Linked DNA regions of Homo sapiens. The protein of the gene in region 1 interacts with the protein of each later gene in a pairwise test. Each region holds a gene or a part of one and is shown in the gene's direction. Other genes may lie near its edges. The genes, in order: CEP72, KIZ, CDK5RAP2 and PIN4.

The links.
Region 2: the proteins of CEP72 (region 1) and KIZ interact in binary tests that used the Homo sapiens proteins (3 or more experiments, as listed by UniProt).
Region 3: the proteins of CEP72 (region 1) and CDK5RAP2 interact in binary tests that used the Homo sapiens proteins (3 or more experiments, as listed by UniProt).
Region 4: the proteins of CEP72 (region 1) and PIN4 interact in binary tests that used the Homo sapiens proteins (3 or more experiments, as listed by UniProt).

The regions. Positions count from the first base shown.
Region 1 is NC_000005.10:650,318-654,065, forward strand, and holds the end of CEP72 (centrosomal protein of 72 kDa), read left to right. Parts: intron 1-2,670; coding exon 2,671-2,836; 3' UTR 2,837-3,236; downstream 3,237-3,748. UniProt on the Homo sapiens protein: Involved in the recruitment of key centrosomal proteins to the centrosome.
Region 2 is NC_000020.11:21,121,339-21,129,115, forward strand, and holds the start of KIZ (centrosomal protein kizuna), read left to right. Parts: upstream 1-4,777; coding exon 4,778-4,866; intron 4,867-7,777. UniProt on the Homo sapiens protein: Centrosomal protein required for establishing a robust mitotic centrosome architecture that can endure the forces that converge on the centrosomes during spindle formation. Required for stabilizing the expanded pericentriolar material around the centriole.
Region 3 is NC_000009.12:120,402,134-120,409,167, reverse strand, and holds part of CDK5RAP2 (CDK5 regulatory subunit-associated protein 2), read left to right. Parts: coding exon 1-41; intron 42-699; coding exon 700-821; intron 822-1,919; coding exon 1,920-2,156; intron 2,157-5,054; coding exon 5,055-5,132; intron 5,133-6,096; coding exon 6,097-6,362; intron 6,363-7,034. UniProt on the Homo sapiens protein: Potential regulator of CDK5 activity via its interaction with CDK5R1. Negative regulator of centriole disengagement (licensing) which maintains centriole engagement and cohesion. Involved in regulation of mitotic spindle orientation.
Region 4 is NC_000023.11:72,184,744-72,191,777, forward strand, and holds part of PIN4 (peptidyl-prolyl cis-trans isomerase NIMA-interacting 4), read left to right. Parts: intron 1-1,717; coding exon 1,718-1,791; intron 1,792-7,034.

The DNA.
Region 1 (3,748 bases):
GGCGTGGACTGTGAGGTGTGACTGTGAGGCGTGGACTGTGAGGTGTGACTGTGAGGCGTGGACTGTGAGGTGTGACTGTGAGGTGTGACTGTGGGTGTGAGGTGTGACTGTGAGGCGTGGACTGAGGTGTGACTGTGAGGCGTGGACTGTGAGGTGTGACTGTGAGGTGTGGACTGTGAGGTGTGACTGTGAGGTGTGACTGTGAGGCGTGGACTGTGAGGTGTGACTGTGAGGCGTGGACTGTGAGGTGTGACTGTGAGGTGTGACTGTGGGTGTGAGGTGTGACTGTGAGGCGTGGACTGAGGTGTGACTGTGAGGCGTGGACTGTGAGGTGTGACTGTGAGGCGTGGACTGTGAGGTGTGACTGTGAGGTGTGACTGTGAGGCGTGGACTGTGAGGCGTGGACTGTGAGGCGTGGACTGTGAGGGGTGACTGTGAGGCGTGGACTGTGAGGTGTGACTGTGAGGTGTGACTGTGAGGCGTGGACTGTGAGGTGTGACTGTGAGGTGTGACTGTGAGGCGTGGACTGTGAGGCGTGGACTGTGAGGCGTGGACTGTGAGGCGTGGACTGTGAGGCGTGGACTGTGAGGTGTGGACTGTGAGGTGTGACTGTGAGGTGTGACTGTGAGGCGTGGACTGTGAGGCGTGGACTGTGAGGCGTGGACTGTGAGGTGTGACTGTGAGGCGTGGACTGTGAGGTGTGACTGTGAGGCGTGGACTGTGAGGTGTGACTGTGAGGTGTGGACTGTGAGGTGTGACTGTGAGGCGTGGACTGTGAGGCGTGGACTGTGAGGTGTGACTGTGAGGCGTGGACTGTGAGGTGTGACTGAGGCGTGGACTGTGAGGTGTGACTGTGAGGTGTTACTGTGAGGCGTGGACTGTGAGGTGTGACTGTGAGGCGTGGACTGTGAGGTGTGACTGAGGCGTGGACTGTGAGGTGTGACTGTGAGGCGTGGACTGTGAGGTGTGACTGTGAGGTGTGACTGTGAGGTGTGACTGTGAGGCGTGGACTGTGAGGTGTGACTGTGAGGTGTGACTGAGGCATGGACTGTGAGTTGTGAATGTGAGGTGTGGACTGAGAGTTGTGGACTGTGAGATATGACCTGTGTGCAGTGTGACCAGGGGAGAGAGGTGCATGAGAGATGGTCGGGCACGGCGGGGCAACCTGGTTCCCCTGGGCGGTAGTCCGGCAGCTGTGCTTCCCCCTTCACTGCAGTGCGTGTTCAGTTGGAAACACGGAGATTTCACCTTTACTCCCTGGCTATAGGGGGATGGTGAGAAGGGGGCTGGGTGTGAGGGGATCTTCAAGGCAGAATCTTAGTTTGTCTTTTAAGAATTGTGTGCCGGGACGTGGTTGGAGGCTGGGTGCAGAAAGGAAGAGGCGAGCTGCTGGAGGAGGCAAGGACAGGTCGCTCTGGGCAGTTTTGTGGGTGCTGCTGTGTGAACCCCTGTTGCTGTGGCCTCAGCAGGGAAGGCTGGTCTGTGGTCAGTTCCTCCCCCTCCCCTCCCCCTTTCATTCCCTCTTCCTTTCCCCCGACCTCCCATTCCCGCTCCCTCCCCCACTCCTCAGGCTGAGGCTGCCACACTTACCTGGGTTCGACCACAGTCTGGTCATAGGCGTAGCCAGGCTCTGCCCCTTACAGGATAAAGGCCACAGACCCCCATGGGGCCCATCACAGGTGTAAGTTACAGAGGGGAAGGGTCCTGAAAGATGAGACTGGGCCAAGAGGAGATGCAGCGGAGCAGAAGGAAGGGGACTGTGGCGGCCGCGGGTGCAGTGCCCAGTCGTGGGCAGGGCCATGTGACTCCCTGGAACCTGGTGGGCCTGTCTGTGGCAGGTCAAGGTACAGTTGGGGGTCATTCTCCTTGAGCACTGTGGCCTGGATGTGGACAAGGCAGGGTGCACAGCTCCCAAACATGGTGGCATTGGGCTTCTGCCCCCAGGATTCATGCTGGCTTCATCCAGTCCTGGCCTGCGGCTCCTTTGCTGTCCAAGTGAACAGGGCCTGGGCCTGCACAGTGGCCCTGTCAGTGGGGTGCCCATCTCTGTGGCTAATGTGACCGAGGTCAGTGGGCCCTGCCTTGTCTAATACTTGTAATGCCCTGAGTGTCCTCAGGTCATCGCTGACTGGGTGATTAGGGCAATTTGGAGGTGACAAAGTGGGTAAAATGTAATAGCACTTTACTTCTAAAATAAAAATGGTCAACAGCATTAAAGACTAGGACTCTTCTATTGCACTATTATGATGTCAAAATTATTATATTTGACTGGGAATTAGAACTATTTCAGTCCCCGTATATTTTCTAGAATTAGAACATTGTTTTGCTAGCCATGAAGTTTATCATCTTCTCATAAAACCATGCGTAGCTGGAATAGCCAAGGCGCCATTCAGTCACTCATTAGCCTGTTCAGCTCATTCATTCATTCCATAGGTGCTGAGCCGCACCTCCAAGGCTGCTCCCAGGGGTCAGGACAGTGGTTGGGAAGGAGGAGGCAGGTGGGCGGTAGCCAGTGGGACACAGAAGGTGATGGGGCCACAGAGATAGGTCTGTGTGCAGGGCCAGGGCACCTTCGTGCCCATGCAGGGAGGTGGGCAGGCCCAGCAGGTGAGGGCCACACCGCTGGAGAGGACGGAAGTGCCAAGCAGCCGCTTCCCTGTTGTTCTGCAGCTCCCTGGTCAGCACCAATGAACACCTGCTGCAGGAGCTGAGCCAGGTGCGGGCGCAGCACAGAGCCGAGGTGGAGCAGATGCACTGGAGCTACCAGGAGCTCAAGAAGACCATGGCCCTGTTTCCACACAGCAGCGCCAGCCATGGAGGCTGCCAGGCCTGCTGACTCCTGCCGAGAAGCTGGGCCACCCCTTAAGCTTCCTGGTAAAGTTACATTGTCTGCACCTTTGTACTTCTTTATTGAGTGTACTGGCTGGCAAGAGTTCTCTCTTCTGTTGGTAATTATTTAGGATTTTTGGAATGTATTCAGGACCTGTAGCTTGGTTTTCTAAAGCACCTCGTAAAATGATATGATTACTCCAAGCCCTCTGCATGTTTTCAGACAGAACACATTGACATATTTTGAGACAAACTGACTATTAATCTTGTATCCAGTATCCTGAGATGAAGTAAATGCAGTGTTCTACTGCCTGATGTGAAAGAGAGCTATGTATGATAATTAAAGAAAATAATTTTCTGTGTAACAAGCAATCTTTATTTAATAAACAAATACATTGTTCTGAAAAGTTAACTTTTTCAGTGGCTGTATACAAATTATAACTGAGTTTGTCATTGAGTTTTTTATAGAACAAGCTGTGCACCATGATAGGTGAGTGGGAATAATTAAGTTCAAAGACTTAACACAAGTGACACTTATAGATGTGGGGGAAAAAACCTTAAAAATATTGTCTTATGATATTAACATATCACAGCGGAAACATCTACCCAAGCCCTGGCTCGCTCTCTTGTTTGCAGTGTAGTTCTGAAAATTATGTCATAATAGGACACAAAACTAGATTTTTAGTTTGGAAACTTCATATCTTATGTCATACTTGCTGTGATTGGTAAGACAAGGTCATTTTTTAAATGACGTTCAACTGATTTGGGAAGAATGAGCAGGCCTAAGAAGAAAATGCTCTGTGCTAGCTCTGTGTGTGTGTGTGCCCTTGCTGTGTGTGTGTGTGCCCTTGCTGTGTGTGTGTGCTGTGTGTGCGCTAGTGTGCGCTTGCTGTGTGTGTGTGCTAGCTGTGTGTGTGTG
Region 2 (7,777 bases), on another chromosome or scaffold:
GGCCCAGTGGCTCACACCTGTAATCCCAGGACTTTGGGAGGCTGAGGAGGGTGGATCACCTAAGGTCAGGAGTTCGAGACCAGCCTGGTCAACATGGCAAAACCCTGTCTCTACTAAAAATACAAAAATTAGCCAGGTGTGGTAGTGTGTGCCTGTAATCCCAGTTGTTAGAGGGTGCTGAGGCAGGAGAATTGCTTGAACCCAGGAGGCAGAGGTTGCAGTGAGCTGAGATTGCACAACTGCACTCCAGCCTTGGCAACAGAGTGAGACTCCATCTCAAAATAAATAAATAAATAAAAATTAAATTAAAAATTCAATTTCTCAGTTGCACTAGCCATATTCAATTGCCCAATAGCCATGGCTAATGGCTACCAGATTGGATATGTCTGCATAATGACTGCAAAATGAAATCTTGTCCTACTTTCATATCTATCATGGATTGAAATGTGTCCCCTGCACAATACATATGTTGACGTTCTAACTCTCAGTACCTCAAAATGCAGTCTTCTTTGGAAACAGGGTCAATGCAGATGTAATTAGTTAAGATGAGATCATACTGGGGAAGGGTGGGCGTCTAATCCAATATGATTGGTGCCTTCATAAAAAGGCAGAATTTGGAGACACATACACAGGTAGAACACCATGTGAACATGAAAGCAGAGGTCAAGATGATGTGTCTAGAAGCCAAGGAACACCAAAGATAGCCTGCAAACCACCAGCAGCCAGGAGAGAGGCATGCGGCAGATTCTTCCCCACAGCCCTCAGAAAGAACGAGCCATGCAGATATCTTGATCTTCAATTTCTAGCCTCCAGACCTGAAACACAATAAATCATGTTGTTTAAGACACCTAGTTTGTGGAGCTTTCTTACAGCAGCCCTAGCAAATTAATATAATATCCAAGCAGTTATTGACTAAATATACATGATTTAATTAAAAGCAGCATAGTGTGTACATTTTAAAATATAAAATGCTACTGCAGGCCAGACACAGTGGCTCACGCCTGTAATTCCAGCACTTTGGGAGGCCAAGGCAGGTGGATCACCTGAGGTTGGGAGTTCGAGACCAGCCTGACCAACATGGAGAAACCCTGTCTCTACTAAAAATACAAAATTAGCCAGGCGTGGTGGCATATGCCTGTAATCCCAGCTACTCAGGAGGCTGAGGCAGTAGAATCGCTTGAACCAGGGAGGCAGTGGTTGCGGTGAGCTGAGATCATGCTATTGCACTCCAGCCTGGGCAACAAGAGTGAAATTCCGTCTCAAAAAAAAAAAAAATTTCTGCTGCATTGAGAGGCCGAGATGAATCAGAACAGGACTTGTTGGGTTTCCCACTCAATTAGTGTTAGATCATGTCCCCTTTGTCCAATCACGCTTCTACACGACTGTCGATCATGCCTATCCAATAAAGTCCCCATAAAAGACCCAAGGGGACAGGGTTCAGGAAGCTTCTGAGCTGGCTGAACATGTGGAGGAGGTTCCTGGAGGGTGGTGTGCCCGTGGAGGGCATGGAACCTCTACACCCCTTCCCCCAGACCTCACCTTATGAATCTTTTCATCTGTATCTTTTGTGATATTCTTATAATAAACTGGTAAATGTAATGTATATATACATATATATGGAAATATGTTGAAATTAGAATTTCCCAATATTAGAATATATGTACAATTCTAATTTCAATATATTTTCCAGAATCAATTTTGTTTTTGAGCTACAAAAACAACAATTTCATTTGGTTCACCCAAAGATTCATGTGACTTCTGGGCCGAGACACTGGCTTCCCTTGCTGTTTGCTTAATGGGACCACTAGGGATCCATATTTTGAACTAGACTCGTTAATATTACATAGATTTCCAGCTAGGTGACTTTGGCCAAGCCCCTTATCTGCCCTGAACCCTTTTTCCCCTGTAAAACAAGGGGGTGGGGCTAGACTCCCTCTAAGTTCTAGCTAAGACATTCTAGGACTTAGAGGAAGCCTTGATCTAGGCAGACTTGATGACCCTTGGTCCAGTGAGCTAAAAGCAGGGCTGCTTACAGAAATCAGCTCAGCTAAATAAAGAGTTTGAAGAAAAATATTAAAATAGAGGGCTCTGGCAAATTAAATATTCAAAGTGAAGAACTCAGAATTTATTGAAAGCCTGTCACCATTTAAAATGCATAATTTTAGCATAAATACTCTAGAAATATTCCTTTTGTTTGCTATGTGTTATTGTTAATAAAGGAGATCCTACATCTAGATTTGTCATACGTCATTAATGAATCAACCATAGGATGTAAATTATAATTATTTTGAATTATCTATTTACTGTTTAATTACATTTAATTTTAGATTCTCCTAAAATGGCCTAATAAAAATTTTGGGTGCTAAATGACTGCCTCATCTGCTTACTCTGTGCTACTTGCTAAAATTAGTTATATTAATTGTTTGGGGATTCTTTTTCTTAAAAAAAAAAACTAACCCTGGGGGCATGGTCCTAAATAAAATATCCTAAAAATTTAATGCTTTTCTTTTCTTTGCCAGGGTTGTAGTAAAATGTTAGTTACACTAAACTCATTAAAATAAACCTTTGCACATTACCACTGAATCAATTGGATATAATCTGAATAAAAACTAAATAAAAGTCACATCAGTGCTACCCTTGGACCAGGGCAAGAAGGCCTCTGCCCTGGCTTCTGTGTATTAGAGGTTCTGTTCTAGCCCTTCTCTGCCCATGCTGCTCCACGCAAGGCAAGGAGGTCCCAGGGCCAGATGACAGGCCCACCTGGGGTGCTCACACACATACACACACATGCTCTTCTAGAACACGTTCTAAGTACCCAACACCCTTACCTTCCCTGCTCAAAGGGGCCCAAGCTGCTTTCTAAGGCTTTAAAAGGCCTCTTGGCTGGGTCTTTCCTGCAAGGGTGACCATCACTGGCATGCTCACTGCCCGGCCAAGAGGAGGCTGAGGTGGGGATGTAGGCAGAGTTGGGACTTGCTGGCTGGAGAAGAGGAGGAGAAGAGGCAGGGCACACACATCCCTGCTAGTGTATGAGACCCCCTCACAAAGCAAGACTGAGCCTGGGGTGGGAAATGGAGTTGGGGGGAGCTGGAGAAGCAGGCAAACTAAATTCCACCCTGGTTGTCCAGGTTCTTAAGAAGGCATATTGGTCAAAGTGGAGAGGAGAACACGTATTTTACCTAAGTTTGTTATCTTGAATTATAATTCAATATTTAGGCGGATGGTATGAGGGCCTCCATTCACACTCTTGCCCTGGAACTGGCAAATGTGAATGGAAGGCTGAGTAAAATCATAGTTTTGTGTTGTTGGCCTTTGAGTGTTCCATCTCTCTTACAATTTTAGTTTGTCACACCTTGCACCTTGTATGTGTAAGTAAAATTAATGGCATAGGAAAGAAACCAAAAGAAGTGAACAATAAGAGACTAAAGAAACTCTACAGGCCGGGCATGGTGGCTCATGCAAGTAATCCTAACACTTTGGGAGGCCAAGGTGGGTGGATCACCTGAGGTTGGGAGTTCAAGACCAGCCTGGCCAACATGGTGAAACCCCGTCTCTCCTTAAAATATAAAAAATACCAAAAAAAACAAAAATTATCTGGGTGTGGTAGCGCACACCTGTAATCCCAGTTATTCAGGAGGCTGAGGCACGAGAATCTTTTGAACCCGGGAGGCAGAGCTTGCAGTGAGCCGAGATCACGCCACTGCACTCCAGCCTGGGCAACAGAGTGAGACTCTGTCTCAAAAAAAAAAAAAAAAAAAAGGAAAGGAAGGCAGAGAAGCAGGCTAAGGCTTAATTTTTCTGCCCAGTGGGTTTTGAAATATGGTTGGCTTCCTTCAGGAAGCTTTTTCCCGACGTTGGTGATGATAATAAAACCTGATGCTTTCTATGTGCTGGGCCCACTTATAAACACTAACACATATTAACAATCGAATCCTAAACTAATCCTGTGTTAACAGCCTCCCACTTTACATATGAGGAAACCTGGGGTGACTTGCACACGGCTTGGCAGCTGGGACGTGGATAGGGAATGTACACCCAGGCAGTCTGGCTCCCGGGCTCCTGCTAGAGGATCCTACAGGACATTAGGAGCATTGTCCCTTAGAGCTGTCTGCACAAACGTCTGCTTCCCAAGCAACTAGTTATCAACTTTTCCCTCTCGCCAACGATACTGGCACCTGGAACAATCCTTAGATTCAGCACGGATTTTCGAGTAAGGGGTTGGTCCACTGTCGGGGCTGAGCACGGCTGTTTAGCATTTGAGGGTTTGTCTTTTTTTACTTGGTGTTTTGTGTCGCTTTTGAGTGCTGATATAATAGAACAAGCTTAGTACAGTGCCTGGCACTCAACAAATCCTGGCAAGAAAGGAGATCGAGGAAAAGAAGCAAGCGAGAGACGAAAGAAAGGGAGGGAATGCGCCTTGTAACATTAACGTAGCTTGTGCGAATCCTGGAAGGTGAGGGGAAAGGAGACACCGCGTCAAGGGAGAGAGGAGAGGGCACCGAGCGCCCGCCCCTCCGACGTGGTCCGCCCCGGCCTCACGACGCCCCGCCTCTGCCACGCCTCTTCCCCGCCCCATGCAGGTCTTCGTCCCGCCCCCCACAAAGCCGGCTTCCGCCCCGTCCCTCAGCGGCGCCCCGCCCCCACGGCGTCTTGCCCCGCCTCCTGCAGGCGGCCCGGCGCGGTGTTTACCCGCGGTGCATGGTGGGGCGGTCTCCTTCGGCAACCCCGGCCGAACGGCCACCCAGAGGCTGTGCTGAGCTGGCGCAGCGGCAGCAGCATGAGCCGGACCCTCGCATCGGCCGTGCCCCTGTCGAGTCCCGACTACTACGAGAGGCTGGGCCAACTCCAGCACGGGCTGCGGGACAGGTAAGGGCACTGGGGCGGGGGTGGGGAGTCGGCCCGCGCCGGGGGTCTTCCGCGTGCCCTGCCCCATTTTCCTTCCCGCTCCCCCGTCCGAGGTTCCCCGGGGCCCAGGCCCGCGCGCAACGCCCCCCAGGCTCCCAGTGGGGCCTGGAGGACAGTGTTTACTAGAGCCACCCCCTGTATTGGGGGTGGGAGCGGAGAGAGGTGAGAGACCGCCCCCGCCCCGTCAATAGCAGCTAAAGCCTGGTCTACGGTTTGAGGATGCGGCCGCGTCACAGAATTTGCCCAGAAGTGAAGGTGGGAGTTCTTCTGCCTGTCACTCTCCATCAAGCCTTGTGAGTTTCTCTTGTCCCCTTTTACACGCCCCCTCCCCACTCTCTTCAAATTGCCATCCCGCCGTGACAGCTGCACTGCATCAATGATGACAAGTCCTGGAACGCAGACGGTTGTGTGTGTGTGTGTCAAACATGTGCCCCCGTTTAAACTCAGGAGACTTTTAGGGGTAGCGAGGGCTGGCTAGATTTCCAGCGAAGGGATGAAATTTCCAGCTAGAGAAGTCCAGCTTCCAGAGGGTTCATGATGCCTTTGATTAAGATATGAAAGATGGGAACCACTGAAAACAGCTAGATCTAAGAGTGCATATAGAGAGAAAATTATACCGCAATGTACTATGAATAACCACGTAAAAGATAAATTGCTGGACCTCTTATTTAGCTGCTAAGTTAATTGGAGTTGTAACTCTCATTAGTTGACAAGAAAGGAAATACATTTTTGGATCTCTTGATAAACAAAACATTTAATGAGTGTTAAAAGTTACAAAATCATTCTAGTGAACAGGAGAGCTGTGTGCGTGACAGTGCTAAAATGATAACAATAATTACATGGAAAATAAAGGCAGAAGTGAGCGATTTTGAAAAGGAATTACATTTATCTTACGCTAGATTTAATTCTTGTCAGATATTTATAGAGCATCTACAACAGGCTTCCTTAATTGTCGTTAGCATTTTTTTTACCTTGTACTCCTTTTCTACGTCCTATTTTCTTTCTGACATGTCACCGCTCACCCATATCAGTGACCTCTTAATTTCTGACTTTAAAAAGAAATCTCTTCCTGTAGAGCCTTCCCTGTTTCAACCCATTCCCTAACTTTTGTGACTCTTGGCATTCTTACAGCACTCATAAATGGCATTCTTTTTGAACTATTAATTGTAAGTTATTTTTGTTTCCTGTGCTAGGAACACCTGGCTGTTTATAGTCCTTATGGCACAATAACTGTATAATAATTATGTACTTTATGATTAACACTTATTTAATTATTAAACAAGGTGAGGCTGTTGAAAATATATAAGGAATGTGAATCAAATTTTATAGCCTGTTCACGGTTCTGCATTTCGAGATTTGTTTTATTTTTAAGTCAGTACAAATCTGTTGCTGTGTGTGTTCATTTTTCATTTTAAGAATTTATAACTAACTCAAATTAATGCACACTGGACACAGTTATAGAGGCAAATAATTCTAGATACAGAAAAGGCTGCAGTAGAAATATCAAAACCTGGATTCTAGTCCACGAACAATTGTGTGACCTTGAGCAGGTTGTTCCACCTCTCTGAACCTTGGTTCTTTACCAGGAATGAGGGGGCTTGACTAATATGCAAAGTAAGGCCACAGATTTTTTTCTTTCTCTCTTTGCTAGAATAATGGGCCTTAAAGTAAAAAAAGAAAAAAAAGCTGAAAGCTGTAGTTTTGCAAAGCAATGTGTAAAGAATATTATTGTCTGTATCCAATTTGAGTGTTTGGATGTACCTTTTTGTTTGTTTGTTTATTTGTTTGAAACATAGTCTCACTCTGTCACCCAGGCTGGAGTGCAATGGCATGATCTCAGCTCACTGCAACCCCCACCTCCCAGGTTCAAGCGATTGTCCTGCCTCAGCCTCCCTAGTAGCTGGGATTACAGGCGCCCACCACCAACCCCAGCTAATTTTTGTATTTTTAGTGGAGATGGGGTTTCACCATGTTGGCCAGGCTGATCTCGAACCCCTGACCTCAGGTGATCTGCCTGCCTCTGCCTTCCAAAGTGTTGGGATTACAGGTGTGAGCCACTGCACCCGGCCTTGGTTGTACCTTTTTAAACAAAGAAACACAAAGCATCCCACTGATCACAGATACCACTGTCTCCTAAAATTCCTGAGTCATTTCATAGGGAGCAACCCTGGGTAGTCACAGCTGCTTTATCAATCCAGAAACTTCTGGGAAGTGGGAGACAAAAAAAAACTCCCTCTTTCTCAGCCCTTTTAGAGGTGGTCATTGCAATGTTAGCTGGTCAAATAACCAGCATATTTCCAGCCCAAGTCATGTTAGCTGTAGTTACACGTAGATGTAATTTTATCGTCTGAATGTTTTCCTATGTGTGTACAGTGTTTTTTCTGCATTGTGGTGAAAGTCAATAATTGAATCTAAAAGAGTCTAATGGAGTGACTTGTTACAGTGTGTATAGCACCCACAAGCATGGTAGAAACTTATAAGTGGAATTGGCTCTTACGGTTATACAAAAACATCCTTTTAAAAGGGCCCATTAGCCAGCCGCGGTTTTTTCAGTGCCTATATTGATTCAGAGTAAGATATCATAATAGTCTAGAAACTGACACTGAGATATTAGTAGAGTAAGCTGAAGATGGTATAGAATTGTGGTATCGAGACAAAAACAGAATAACAAGTGGCTTAAAAGTAGAAAACTCAGCAAGATAAGGACCACTTAGCTGTGTAAAACTGAAAGGTCCAAGTGAGGGGTGACTGAAAACATGAACTATGGGTAAGCATCCCAGGGATGGGTATTTCAAAGATTCTGAATAGAGATTTAATATGTAAGAATTGCAAGCCATGGAAAGGCTTTTCATTGAGGCAAATATCTGGTTTT
Region 3 (7,034 bases), on another chromosome or scaffold:
CTGATCCAGGAGGTCCGCTGCAGCGGCCAGGAGCTGAGCAGGTAGTGGCTGTGCTTCCCTGGTGGCCTGCTGGCCGTACCACGCATGCAGGCACTGGGCTGCAGTCGTGGAATCAGCACGCAGGCCTCTGCCTTAGTGCACAGTGGCAGGCAGTAGACACAAACACATTGTACGTCTGGTGCGCCTACAACATATGGAGAAAGATCCTGTAAGGAGGAGAGGGCTTGGCAGTGGGTTGCTGTTTTTTGTCAAGGGTGAGTCAGGGAAGGCCTTTGTGAAAAGATGCCATTTGCTCAGAGAGCTGAATGCAGTGAGGAGGTGAGTGCTGCAGCTACCTGGGAAAGATCATTTCAGGCAGAATGGGCGCAGGCCCTGAGGCAAAGTGGCTTAGGCCTGTGCCGGACAGAGCAGGGCAGTGTATCTGGAGAGGGGGCTGGCAGGATACCAAATCACATCGGGCTGCAGAGTCAGTGTGAGGACTTTGGGTTTTCCTCTGAGTGGCATGGGAAGCCACTGGGAGATTCTGAGCAGAGGAGTGGAATTAGGATTAGAGAGCACATGGAATTCTTAACCATGCTTGTCACTTCTTGGTCCACACTCTTGTGACTGAGGGTGGAATTGGCCTGCTCTGTGGGGTTTGAATAAGTTACCCTGAGGTAGAATTAACCTGTCCTTCTCATGCCTGTGGGGCCTTCTCAGGGTGCAGGAGGAGGTGAAGTTGAGGCAGCAGCTGCTCTCACAGAATGACAAGCTATTGCAGTCTCTCCGAGTGGAGCTGAAGGCGTATGAGAAGCTGGATGAAGAGCACAGGAGACTGAGAGGTACTGAGGCCCTTCTCACCTTGAGGCTACTGTGCTTTGGGCTGTAAGACCACCCGACAGCTGGCTGTAGGCACAGGAGGGCAGAGCTCAGCCCTCTCCACTCTGGCCTTGTGGGTAGAGTGGATGGGTGTTGAAGCTAGCTCTTTGACCCACTCTTCTTCTGAAGGAACAGCAGGAAACATAGAAGGACTGAGGCTCAGCACCCAGGCCAGCCGAGGTCCGGGTTCCCACTCACTTGTTCCCAGCTATGTGACCCTCAGTAGGCCACTTCACCCTTTGAGCCCATACCTATCTCTGTAAAACATGTCTCTCAGCACCTGTTGTGTGGAGAATTGTGTTGAAAATTGAATGAGACCATTTATTAAAAGCATCCTAGCAAGATACCTGACACATAGTAGGCACCCAGGAAATGACCTTTATTATAATCGTCCTGCTAGTATATGTTACTTTTTGCCCACTCATTCAGCAAACATTTATGGACACCTCTCACGTGCTGGGCATTGCTCTGGGGATGGTTGTTGGCCTCGTTGCTCTCTGTATCCCAGGAGAGATACCAGCTCAGAGTGCTTCAACTATAACGTCTAATGTTTCAGAATCAATTTTGAGGTGTGGTGAGGTGTTTTTTTTTTTTTTTTATTTTACTAATTTTCCAGATGGTTTCTCTCTATTGAAAGTTTATCTAGAAAGGGGTCATCTCACAGCTTTTATTTTCTCCTCAACTTGCTTTTTTTATTCTTGCTGTTGTGTCTTTTTAATATAGTGTGGCTCTTAAAATCATCCCCTTTCATTCTATAATTCTAGCCCAAATAGATTTTATTACTACTAGACATAATTTCGGGGTTTGGTGTGCAATTTGCTAGGCTTTTATGGCCAGAAGCGAAAATTAATTTCCAGCTCTTATTTAGCGTGTGGAATAGCAGCAATTAAGTCTGCCAATATTTTTGTTTCTAAAGTCAAGTTGTTATTTTAAACTGTACCTAGTTCTTAGGAAGGGGGAGGGCGATGGTGGTGGTGAGTGTAAAATGCGATTGAGTTCCTTCGATGGCTGACCCTTTGGTTGTGGAAGATGTCAGGGCTTCTCTTTGCACATGTCCTCAGAGGCGTCGGGAGAAGGCTGGAAGGGGCAGGATCCTTTCAGGGACCTGCACAGCCTCCTGATGGAGATCCAGGCTCTGCGCTTGCAACTAGAAAGGAGCATCGAAACCAGCAGCACTCTGCAGAGCAGGCTCAAGGAACAGCTGGCAAGGGGGGCAGAGAAGGCACAGGAAGGAGCCCTCACTCTGGCTGTCCAAGCCGTGTCCATCCCTGAGGTGCCCCTTCAGCCTGACAAACACGGTACTGCCCCTGCCTCTCCCCACTTGCTGAGAATGCAGCTCTGAGCATCTGTGTGTGACATGTGAACTTCTGAATGATGCCTTTGCCCCACAGAGGTGTCTTTCCATTGATAGCTGACATGCTGTACCCTAGGAGCCAGGGGACCTGACTGCTAATTAATTAGCGGTCACCTTGGGCAAAGTGGCGTAATCTCCATCTGAGGCATCTTGATTCTCAGGGAAGTGGAATTTGGACTTCCAGACACCCTCAGTGCCTCTGGCCTTGCTCCCTCCTATCCATTTAGTCCTGCCTGCATCACTTTGATGCTGAAATTTCTTTTAGTTTCTCTTACTGCCTTTAGAAGGGAACCTAAACATCTTAATCTGGCTTTCAGTGTCTTTCAGGATCTGAAAATCATCCTGATAGGTTTAAAAAGTGGATCTGTTTTGCATTTGTGTGCAGGTTAATTGCCTAGCCCTGGAGAGGCTGTGGGGGGTACGAGAAAGAGGACCAGACACCTCTACCACCCGCCCACCCAGGGTGTGGAGCAAACCAGTAAATGGTTAGACTCCAAGCAATCAGGCAGCCTGTCCTCTTTGCTCTAGAGATGAAAAACAAAGGCCCAGAGAGTGGATGGGGCTTGCCCAAAGTGGCACAGCAAGTAGGCAGCAGAGCTGGAGCTAGAAACCATTTCCAGCTTCGAGTCCAGGGCTGTTCCTAAACCCCACTGGACTCTCTGGAGCGTTGGGTATCCTGGGATTATCATCCTGACACCCATAGGGTAAATGTGTGTATCCAGTGGGATGAGGAATGCCAGCCTGCTTTACAAGCAAGTATTGTACTAAAGTTTGGACTGACTTTTACTTGGATACCTCTAGTTAAAAAAATAAAAATAAATCTCTTAAGGAGCACCTGGTCAGTCCGCTCGTAGTGATTAGTTCATTGATTTCTCATTGACAAGGATCTTAAAATTTAATCAAAAAGATGATGTAATAATATGAAAAAAGTGAACAGAGAAAAAAAGTTCATGATTCTACACATTGATCATTTTTTAAAATTTGCATATTTTTTCATTTATTAAATATGAGCATGAATTTATATTTTTCAAATTGGATTTTGTGTCATTGTGTGTCCTTTCTTTGTTTTTGCCCAATATTACATCATACATGTTCCCTGTGCTTTCACATGGGCTTCCTAATGATTGTTTGCAGGCTATTCTCAGTCACCAATCCATGACCCCGTTGATTTATTAAAGTGGTCTCTGATTTGGAGCCATAATAGACATCAATGTTAATATGCTTTTTGCTGTTAAATAATATTCTTAGGAGAAAACCCTACAAGGGGAACCTCATAAGTTTGGAAAGGTGCCATATTGCCACCTTCTAAATAGTCTGTACATCAGCAGTGTACAAAGGTAGTGGTTTTTGTGTGACCTCAGCATTGGGCATTACTATTTTCAACACGGGTCTGCACCTGGCCCTTTTTAAGGCTTTGAGGAGATGGGATTCAGGAACTTGTGGGGTAGGCTAGGGGAGTTTGAAGCAGGGAGAACAGTTCTGTGCTTGGGGTACCCAGGAAGGAGAGTTGGGTAGCTGAAGTGAGGAGGCCATCAAACAGCCTTTACCTGCTTTTGAAATTTGCCGAAAGCAGCCCTCATCATGCCTGGCAAGAGGCATCCAGGAGAGCATTCAGAATTCACAGTGCTGCCTCAGCAGAAAAGTTTTATAATTTCCTTGAGTCAAGATCAGAATTATAGGCAGCAGCATTTCTTCCTTTGCAAAAGACTTCTCAGGTCTGTATTTAAGTGCATCTGTTTTAAAAATTCTGTTCTAAAGGCTGATGTCTTTCACTGAGAGTGATTCCTCTTGGGGCCAGCTCTATGGAGCTGACCTCCTGGCTCCTTGGCCTTAGGAACTGTAGCACACCCCTGGGAAATGCTGGAGTGCAGTCAGCCCACCGCCCAGTGGTGCAGGAGCTCGGAAGGGGGATCCTAAGCCCTAGGCTTCCTTGCTCTGTGCCACTGACATGCTGGGTTATGCTGGACAGATCACTTTCTATCTCTGCCCCTTGGTCTCCCCTTCCATGAAATCTGAATTACAGTGTGTTTTGCCCACTGAGCTATTGAGTCCAATAGCTTTTCATATGTGAAAGTGCTTTCCAAATTATAACGTGTTGCACAGGTCATCTGTACAGCATCTATTGGTTTTGCCTCCTTACAGTGTTGCAAATACATCACCCCCCAGATCCTATTGTGGGTTACTCTCATCTCTAGCTTAGGTTAGTGTGGCAGCCTCCAGACTTACTCTTTCAGTACAAAATACAGACCTCAGCTTGACATTGCCTTGCCCAAAGCCCTTGAGTGGGCCCCTCAGTCCTCTTGGTTCTGGCCTTGCATTCTACTTTGTCCTTCCCTGCACCCGGGCCTTGGGTCTATGAACTGCTTATTTCTCCCTGAGCGATGATTCCACTCTTTGTCCCACTGTCTGCCTCTCACCTGCCCATTGTGCTGCCTGGCATTTCTTTCCCTCCTTCTTACCATAGGTCAGTCACAATCAGTCTTAAAACATAAGGTTTTAAAACGGGTATTAGCCTTTGGGAAGCCAAGTTGGGGGTAGTGCCCCTCACCTGAGCCCCAACAGCCTGTGTTTCCCTCCCTTGTCCTTGATCACACTAAAATAAAATTGCTTATTTACTTTTCTGCTGAGAGTTTTTCTAGGGAATGGACTGGGCCTGGTCACTCTGTCTCCCTGGTGTCCCACAAAGGTGGGCTTGGCAGGACAGAGGCCCAGTGAAGATTTGAAGGAATGCTGTGTGTGTATGGATAAGTGAATGTGAGGGGCTTGACTGTATTCTCTTTCAGTTCTCTCTTGAATGCTGACAACAGTGAAACTAACAGTTCTCGTGTTTTGCATTTTGTAGATGGTGACAAATATCCCATGGAAAGTGATAATTCATTTGATCTGTTTGATTCCTCCCAGGCAGTGACACCAAAATCAGGTACAAAGCTGAAGTCCAGGTAACTGTGGGAGCATTGGATGTGACAGTAAGACTTTTTAACTTGCAGAAAAGGGGGGTCCCTGGTCCCAACTCAGGAGGGTATTTGGTAAGGATTTGGGATTTCAAGTTCTCAGCATCCCCAGCTGGTGATCTTCTCCTTCAAGCCAGTTAATCCACTCCTAGGTGTTACCAAGGTTAGAACATCATTGGGTCCCTCTTGCCTTAGATTAAAATTGTGACCACCTTTGTGAGGCTTTCAAGGCCCTCCAGGATCCAGCTCCAGTGGGTCCGTCCAGCCTTATCCCTTAACCTGGTGTAGCCACACAGGGGTCACCATCCTGCAGACAGGCCCACACTTTCCTCTCACTGTGACTTTTAGACCCCCTTTGTCCCACTCTTTGCCGGTAGAAGTCCCGTTTCCTCAAGACTCATCATGAATACACATTTCTCTGTGACATGCCTTTGCTGCTGTCCTTGGTCAGAATGACTCATCATTCGTGTAATTCTTGCTACTTGCTCAATCCAGTTCAAATGCTGCTCCTTCTCAGAAGCCTTCCCTGTTCTCTCCCTCCCTGCACAGATAATTGTTTTTTCTGGCTCTGGCCCTTCATCACTCTGCTGTTGCACCTTCTGCAGTGTCTGTGTTCTGATCAGACTGTGGGCTACTGGAATGCAGGCACCAGCTTGAGTCATCCTTGTGAATCTGGGGTCTTCTGCCGAGTGGGTGGTTGATAAGTGTTGGTTGAGTTGACTTGAGCCTCTCCTACAAGATGACTCATAAGCCCAGTGTGGGGTAATATACAGAGGTCCAGGAGCGTGCCTCTTTTCCCCTCTGGGCTTGTGTTGGGTGGCATTTGGGCACGAGGGCCTCTTCTAGCCCTCCTAGCTAGCTTCAACATCATAAGCGTCTTGAACGCAGAGTGTTACCTGAAACAGATTTTACATCCTACTTCTCATTTTACAGTTTCAGAGACTCCTCCACTCTCTGGGAATGACACGGACTCCCTCTCCTGCGACAGTGGCAGTTCGGCAACTAGCACTCCGTGTGTGTCCCGCCTGGTCACTGGCCACCACCTGTGGGCCAGCAAGAATGGCCGCCATGTCCTGGGCCTGATTGAGGACTATGAGGCCCTGCTCAAACAGATCAGCCAGGGACAGAGGCTCCTTGCTGAAATGGACATTCAAACCCAAGAGGCTCCCAGCTCCACAAGTCAAGAGCTGGGAACAAAGGTAACCTGACCACAGAGCTGGGGGGCACAAGCTGCTCCCTGGGAGTGTCGGTGGAAGGGGGAGGGGAGTCAAATGGCGCAGTTGTCCTCATTAGGACCCTGAGAAGAGGGACCAGGAAGTGTGGCCTCAGAGAGCTCAGAGGTCAGGTCCAGTGTGGGGAACTATTGGTGGTGGCTGTGTTTGGTGGGGTTTGTGCCTTGTGTTCCTGCAACTGCTCCATGGGCTCTGCTGTCTTGTTCCCATGACGGCCTCTGTACATCTGGTCTCTCATCCATTCTTCTCTCCATCTGCACCCTGGTGTGTCTGTCCATTCATCTGCCCATCCACCTGGCTGTCGCCCATTATGAAGTGGAATTACTAGTTCAAAGGTTGTGAACTTTTTAGGGCTCTTGATGATAACTGTTGCTCCATTACTTTGCAAAACAATTCTATCTCTGTTCATGAACGTTTGTCTCACTACATTTTTGTTTTTGTTGAGGTTTTGTTGTTGTTGTGTTTTTTTTATTTTGAGACAGGATCTAGCTCTGTCACCCAGGCTGGAGTGCAGTGGCGCGATCATGGCTCACTGTAGCTTCGACCCCACCTCCTAGGCTCAAGCAATCCTCCTGCCTCAGCCTCCCAAGTAGCTGTGACCACAGGCGTGTGCCATCACACCTGGCTTTTAAAAAAAAT
Region 4 (7,034 bases), on another chromosome or scaffold:
GGTTTTCAGTTTAATCAAACATTTATTAAAACACCTTTTGTGTGCCAGGCATTGTGCTAGGCTTGGAGATACTAAGACAAGCAAGATGGAGACTCTTGCTTAAAACTTTTCAATGGCGGCCAGGCGCGGTGGCTCACGCCTGTAATCCCAGCACTTTGGGAGGCCGAGGCTCGCAGATCACGAGGTCAGGAGATCGAGACCATCCTGGCTAACAGGGTGAAACCCTGTCTCTACTAAAAATACAAAAAAAATTAGCGGGGCGTGGTGGCAGGCGCCTGTAGTCCCAGCTACTCGGGAGGCTGAGGCAGGAGAATGGCATGAACCCGGGAGGCGGAGCTTGCAGTGAGCCGAAATCGCGCCACTGCACTCCAGCCTGGGCGACAGACAGAGCGAGACTCCGTCTCAAAAAAAAAAAAAAAAAAACAACTTTTCAATGGCTCCCTATTACGTCTAGGATAAGTCCCAAGCTCCTTAATGGGGCCAAAAGGCCTCAATGCCCTGACCCTCAGCTACCTCCCTCAGGCAGGCTCATCTGAGTGCACTCCCACCTCAGATTTGGCTTCATCCATACAATTTCTTACACATACCATGTCGTTTCCCCCATTCTGGAGTGTCTCCTCATCCTTTCTTTGGCTAACCAGCTCCTACTCATCCAGGAAACCTTCCCTGGCTGGCTCCAGTGTCCCTCTGTGCTTCCACAGCCCCCTGTCCATAACCATCTCTGCATCTCCTGCATTCTCCTGAAATGATCCGTCTTCCTCACTAGAATATGAGTTTTCTGAAGGAAGGTACATGGCTTGTTCATCTTTGTACTCCCAGTGCCTGGAACTCAGTAGTTGTATAGGAAATGTTTATTGAACTGAGCCCTTAATTCAACTGTAATTCTTAGGAACATCAGCCTCTAGCAGTATGTAGGCTGCCATTGACACAGAAGTTACCATAGTAGTAAAATGACATACTAGTAAAATGTAAGATGCTGCTAATGGTTCTAGGAAGACATCAATAGGCAATGTAGTAGACTCTAGAAATTTGGACATGAATGTATTCTTTAGCCAAAAATGGGTAGTGGGAAATTTGATCTTTTTAAAAAATGTATTCTTAGAGATTTTACTTACTGGAATTGTGATGCTTGAACACATAGTTGTGGTACATGATAGAACTCTTACAAGAACTTAGGAGTCTGCCCTCAGAAGGCAGGGTGTTAAATTGGATGCAAAGAATCTGGGCCAGGCTTCCGGAGCTTTCATTCACCTATTAGCACACTCATTTGTGTATCCATTTTCTGTGAAGGGTTTATATAGGGCACAGATTTCCTGTTTGAAGAAAGATGGGTCAGATTAATTTAGCTTGATGTTGTAAAGCAAGCTTGTCCAACCCACGGCCCACGGGCTGCATACGGCCCAGGATGGCTTTGAATGCAGCCCAACACAAATTTGCAAACTTTCTTAAAACATTATGAGATTTTTATTTGTGATTTTTTTTTTTTTTAGCTTGTCAACTATCATTAGTGTTAGCGTATTTTGTGTGGCCCAAGATAATTCTTCCATTGTGGCCCAGGGAAGCTGAAAGGTTGGATACCCTTGTTGTAAAGTGTCTGGCCGAGTTCCCTTTTGAAGTGTGGCGTTATGATGGAAATATCCACTCCGGTTGTGTGTTGGACCTTTCTGTAAACATGGAGGTGCAGTTTAAATGAGTACCTGTCATCTCTTCTCTAAAGGGGGAGCAGCCTCTGGGAGTGACAGTGCTGACAAGAAGGCTCAAGGTCCCAAAGGTGGTGGCAATGCAGTAAAGGTGAGTTACTGGTTCCTTTTTTTCCATGTTAAATATAAATTCTGTTTATGTGTTAGTACACATAAAAGACAGAATGCTTAACTCATTCTAACAGGCTAGCCTAACACTGGTATAAAATCAAAATAACACAAAATTGTAGCTGGGCGCACCTGTAATCCCAGCACTTTGGGAGGCCAAGGCAGGCAGATCAGCCTGGCCAAAATGGTGAAACCCTGTCTCTACTAAAAATACAAAAATTTGCCTGGTGTGGTGGTGTACACTTGTAATCCTAGCTACTTGGGAGGCTGAGGCACGAGAATCAAGAATCGCTTGAACCAGGAGGCTGAGGTTGCAATGAGCTGAGATTGCACCACTGCACTCCAGCCTGGGCAACAGAGTAAGATTCCATCTCAAAAAAATAAATAAATAAAAATAAATTTTAAAAAAATGGAAAATATAGACCAGTCTTGCTTATGAAAAGTAATTCCCTTTAAATATTTTGTCATGTACTTTCTCAGATACCCAGAATTTCTTTATAGTTTTTTAGTATTGTTCCTTAAAATGCATTAAGTTAGATCTTCCCAGTAATTGAGTTATTTCTTAGGACAAAATAATATTTTATAAAACCAAGAGATTAGATAAGTGTTAAAAGTCCTCTGCTGAATAAACAGGCAAGGGTGCAGGTCTCTTTAGAAAGCTTCCCCACTGGTGAGCCACAAACCAGGGTCTTGACCATGAAAATGGGGGCAGGAGAAAATCAGCAAATAATTACTTGAAATACTTAACCTAGCCCCAGAGGAGTATCTGCTGGGAGAAAATTTAATCTGCAAACTAGTAAGTGCTATGTAACAAGGCAATTTCCATGTTTTAGTCAGGATATGGGAGGCTGTACTTTGATTCATTCATTCAGTAAGGACTTAGTGACATCTGCCCTGTGCCAAGCAATGTATTAGGCTCTGGGGATTTTTTATCATGTATTTATTTAATAAAAAAGTAAGAGATGGGCCAGGCACAATGGTTCATTCCTGTAATCCCAGCACTTTGGGAGGCCAAGGCACGAGGATCACTTGAGCCCAGGAGTTTGAGACCAGCCTGGGCAATATAGCAAGACCCTGTCACTAAAAAAGTAAAAATAAAAAATCAGCCAGACGTGGTGGTGCACAACTGTGGCCCTAGCTACTCAGGAGGCTGAGGTGGGAGGATCGCTTGAGCCCGAGAATTTGAGGCTACAGTGAGCCATGATTGTGCCACTACACTCATCCTATGCAACAGAGCGAGACCCTGTCTCAAAAAAATAAATAAAAAGTAAGAGATGGTCCTTGTTATCACAGGCTACTTGGGAGCAGTTAGGTAAAGATATGTATTTCATTGCTGTATGATAAGCATAGCAGTGGAACTGCATCATATAAATTCAGCCATACATGTGTAGCCTAAAAAAGAGAGATCATGTAAATGGTGTGGACTGTTCTGCCCACTCTTCTATTCAATGAACCTATGCCCCACAGAGAGAGAGAGAGATGAGAGACATGCACCTGCTTTTCTATAGTTGCCCTGAATTCTTGTGTGAGCATCCAATCATGTGAAGTGGGGTTCTGGTATCCAAAGATAAGTTTTCATAAAACATAGCCCCTAAATACAACCCAGTTACTTCATGTTACAAACGGAGTACAGCGTTCCTGGCTATGTCTGGGCTTAAATGAGAGCTGACATGCTGGTCTCCCATATGACATCTTCATAAAGGGATATTCTAGGGTAATTTTGGCTATATGCAGTTTTCACCTAATATGTTTTCACAAGCATCTAACCTAAGAGACTGTTGCACTGCATATGGCTTTAGCTACTTTTTTTTATTTTTTTTTTTGAGACGGAGTTTCACTCTTGTTGTCCAGGCTGGAGTGCAATGGCACGATCTCGGCTCACTGCGACCTCCGCCTCCCAGGTTCAAGCGATTGTCCTGCCTCAGCCTCCCAAGTATCTGGGATCACAGGTGCCCGCCACCGCGCCCAGCTAGTTTTTTGTATTTTTAGTAGAGATGAGGTTTCACCATGTTGGCCAGGCTGGTCTTGAACTCCTGACCTCAGGTGATCCATCTGCCTCGGCCTCCCAAAGTGCTGGGATTACAGGCATGAGCCACCGTGCCTGGCGGCTTTAGCTAATTTTTTAAAAACTTTGTTTTGTTGTTTTTATCTTTGTAGAGATGGAGTCTCGCTATGTTGCCCAGGCTGGTCTTGAACTCCTGGCCTCAAGCGATCCTCCCGCCTCAGCCTCCAACAGTGTTAAGATTATAGGGGCATGAGCCACCACACCTGGTGCATGTGGCTTTAAAGAGGCACCTTACCCTCTCTGGAAAAAAAATAAGTTCAATGTGGCCACTCATGAGATATATGGAAAGGAGTGGCACGTTATTCACTAGGAAAGTAGATTAGGGTTAAATTTGTTTTTATAAAGCCTTTTATTTTGAGATAATTATAGATTCACATGCAGTTTTAAGAAATAATACATCTAGCTGGGCATGGTCGTGTGTGCCTGTAGTCCCAGCTACTTGGGAGGCTGAGGTAGGAGGATTGTTTGAGCCCAGGAGTTTGAGGCGGCAGTGAGTCAGGATCACGCCACTGCACTCCAACCTGGGCAACAGAATGAGACCTTGTCTCTAAAAAAGAAAAAAAGAAAAAGGAAAAGAAATAATACGTATTCCTTTGTTTCTCCCAATGGTAACACCTAACAAAACTATAGTACAATAGCACAAACAGGATATTGACATTGATGTAGTCAAGATACAGACAATCCTACCACTACAAGGATCCCTCCTCTTGGCCTTTTATAACTATACCCGCTTCCCTCCTGCCCCACCTCTGCCCTCTTAACCCATGGCAGCAACTTATCTGTTCTCCATTTGTGTAACTTTATAATGTCAAGAATGTTATATGAATGGAATAATACAGTATGTAACCTTTTGGGATTGGTTTTATTCACCCAGTATAATTCGCTGGAGATTTCATTCAGGTGGTTTTGTTTATCAATAGTTTATTCCTCTGTATTGCTAAATAGTACCAGTTGAGTATCCCTAATCCAAAAATACAAAATACAAAATGCTGTAAGATCTGAAACTTTTTGAGCGCTGACATGACACTCAAAGTAAATGCTCATTATAGCATTTCAGATTTTGAATTTTCAGATTAGGGATGCTCAACTGGTAAGTTTAATGCAAATATTCCCAAATCCGAAACACTCTGGTCCCAAGCATTTTGGATAAATGATATTCAACCTGTATCCCATGATGTGGAAGTGCTGTAGTATGTCGAACCATTCACCTGTTGAAGGACAGCTGGGTTGTTTCAAGTGTTTTTTGAAGGCACCAGTCGGTGAGGGACCCTGGGACCCTCTGGCCTTTTAGGGTTCAGCTCCTTTCACATTCTGTCATTCTGCTTCAGACCCCACCCCTGTGCCCACACCCTGCCCTTTTGTCGCTATAAGCTCTGCAGATTCTGAGACCCATCCACTGACCACAGCTTCCCTCCTTCCCCTTCCCTTCCTGCCTCCGCCAATCCTGTTCCTCTGTTCTTCTCCTCACAGACCCCCAAGCCCTCAAGCCCACCCTAATCTCCCCACTTTCTCCTAGGCTTCATGTTTGTTTTCCTATCCCCTGCACACTCAAAATTAGGCCTAAGGGCTTGATCATTGGATTGAGGAGGTCCAGTTTTTCTTTTGGCCACCTCCCTGCATCCACCTCCCTGCTACTCAGGATCAATCCAATGGTCTACTTTCTATGCACTTAAAATTAGATCTATAGTTAGAAGAGAAGAATTCGAGTGGTTCTAGTATAAAGAAAAGACAAATATTTAAGGTGATGGATATTCCAAGTATACTGATTTGATCTTTACCAATTATATGAATGTATTAGATTATTGCATTACCTTGAAACTGTACATCTACTATGCATCAATAAAAAAGAAAGGAAGGAAAAGAAAAGAAAAGAAAAGATTTCCTTGAAAACGTCTAGCTGGGGGCAACTTAAATATTAATACTTGATTTTTAATAAGTATGTAAATAAAGTATTTACTAATAATTCCAATATGAGTATTATATTTGCTTATAGATGAACTTATTTCAGTAGCTTGGCTCAAATTTGAAACAGTTACTTAAGAAAGAAAAATTCAGCCGGGCGCCGGTGGCTCATGCCTGTACTCCTGGCACTTTGGGAGGCCAAGGCTTGCGGATCACCTGAGGTCAAGAGTCCAAGATCAGCCTGGCCAACATGGTAAAACCCCGTCTCTGCTAAAAATACAAAAATTAGTCGGGTGTGGTGGCGGGTGCCTATAATCCCAGCTACTCGGGAGGCTGAGGCAGGAGAATCACTTGAACCTGGGAGACAGAGGTAGCAGTGAGCCGTGATCACACCACTGCACTCCAGCCTGGGCAACAGAGCGAGACTCCATCTCAAAAAAAAAAAAAAAAGCTCCCCAGAACTGCTGGGCCCTACTGGAAAGTCACACAGCCTTGGGGATTGGGACTACTAATACTTGGTCTCTGACTTTACCTAGGCCCTCAGTGCTGCTCAGCAATCCTTTACCGCCCACCTGTAGCCATCCACCACCCCACTCCCATCAGTCAACAGAGAACTTCATTCCATGGTTCTCAACCCTAGACGTACATCAGATTCGCCTAAAAAAATACGAGTGCCTAGGGTCTCATCCCAGACCAACTGCATCAGAATCTCTTGGAGGGGGGCCTGGACTTTGATAACTTTTTTAGAAGGGCTGGGCTCTGTGGCTCATGCTTGTAATCCTAGCACTTTGGGAGCCCGAGGTGGGTGTATCACTTGAGGTCAGGAATTCGAGACCAGCCTGGCCAACATGGTGACACCTTGTCTCTACTGAAAATACAAAAATTAGTTGGGCATGGTGGCATGCGCCTGGAATCTCAGCTACTCGGGAGGCTGAGGCAGGAGAATCACTTGGACCCGAGAGGCGGAGGTTGCAGTGAGCTGAGATTGCGCCACTGCACTCCAGCCTGGGCGACAGAGTGAGACTCCATCTCAAAAAACAAAAACGAAAAACTTTTCTAGAATTTCTGGAGGTGATTCTAATATGCTGCCAGGGTTAAGAAACACTCATCTAGTCTCACAGCGTTAGTGTGAGGATTTAATGAGATAAGTACTCATCAACTTTTAAATGTTTTTATTATTTTAACAAGAAAGTGGAAACCAGACCCATTGTCAGGAACTCATTGGCTTTCAGCCCCCTAGCAACAAAGTTACCTCCTCA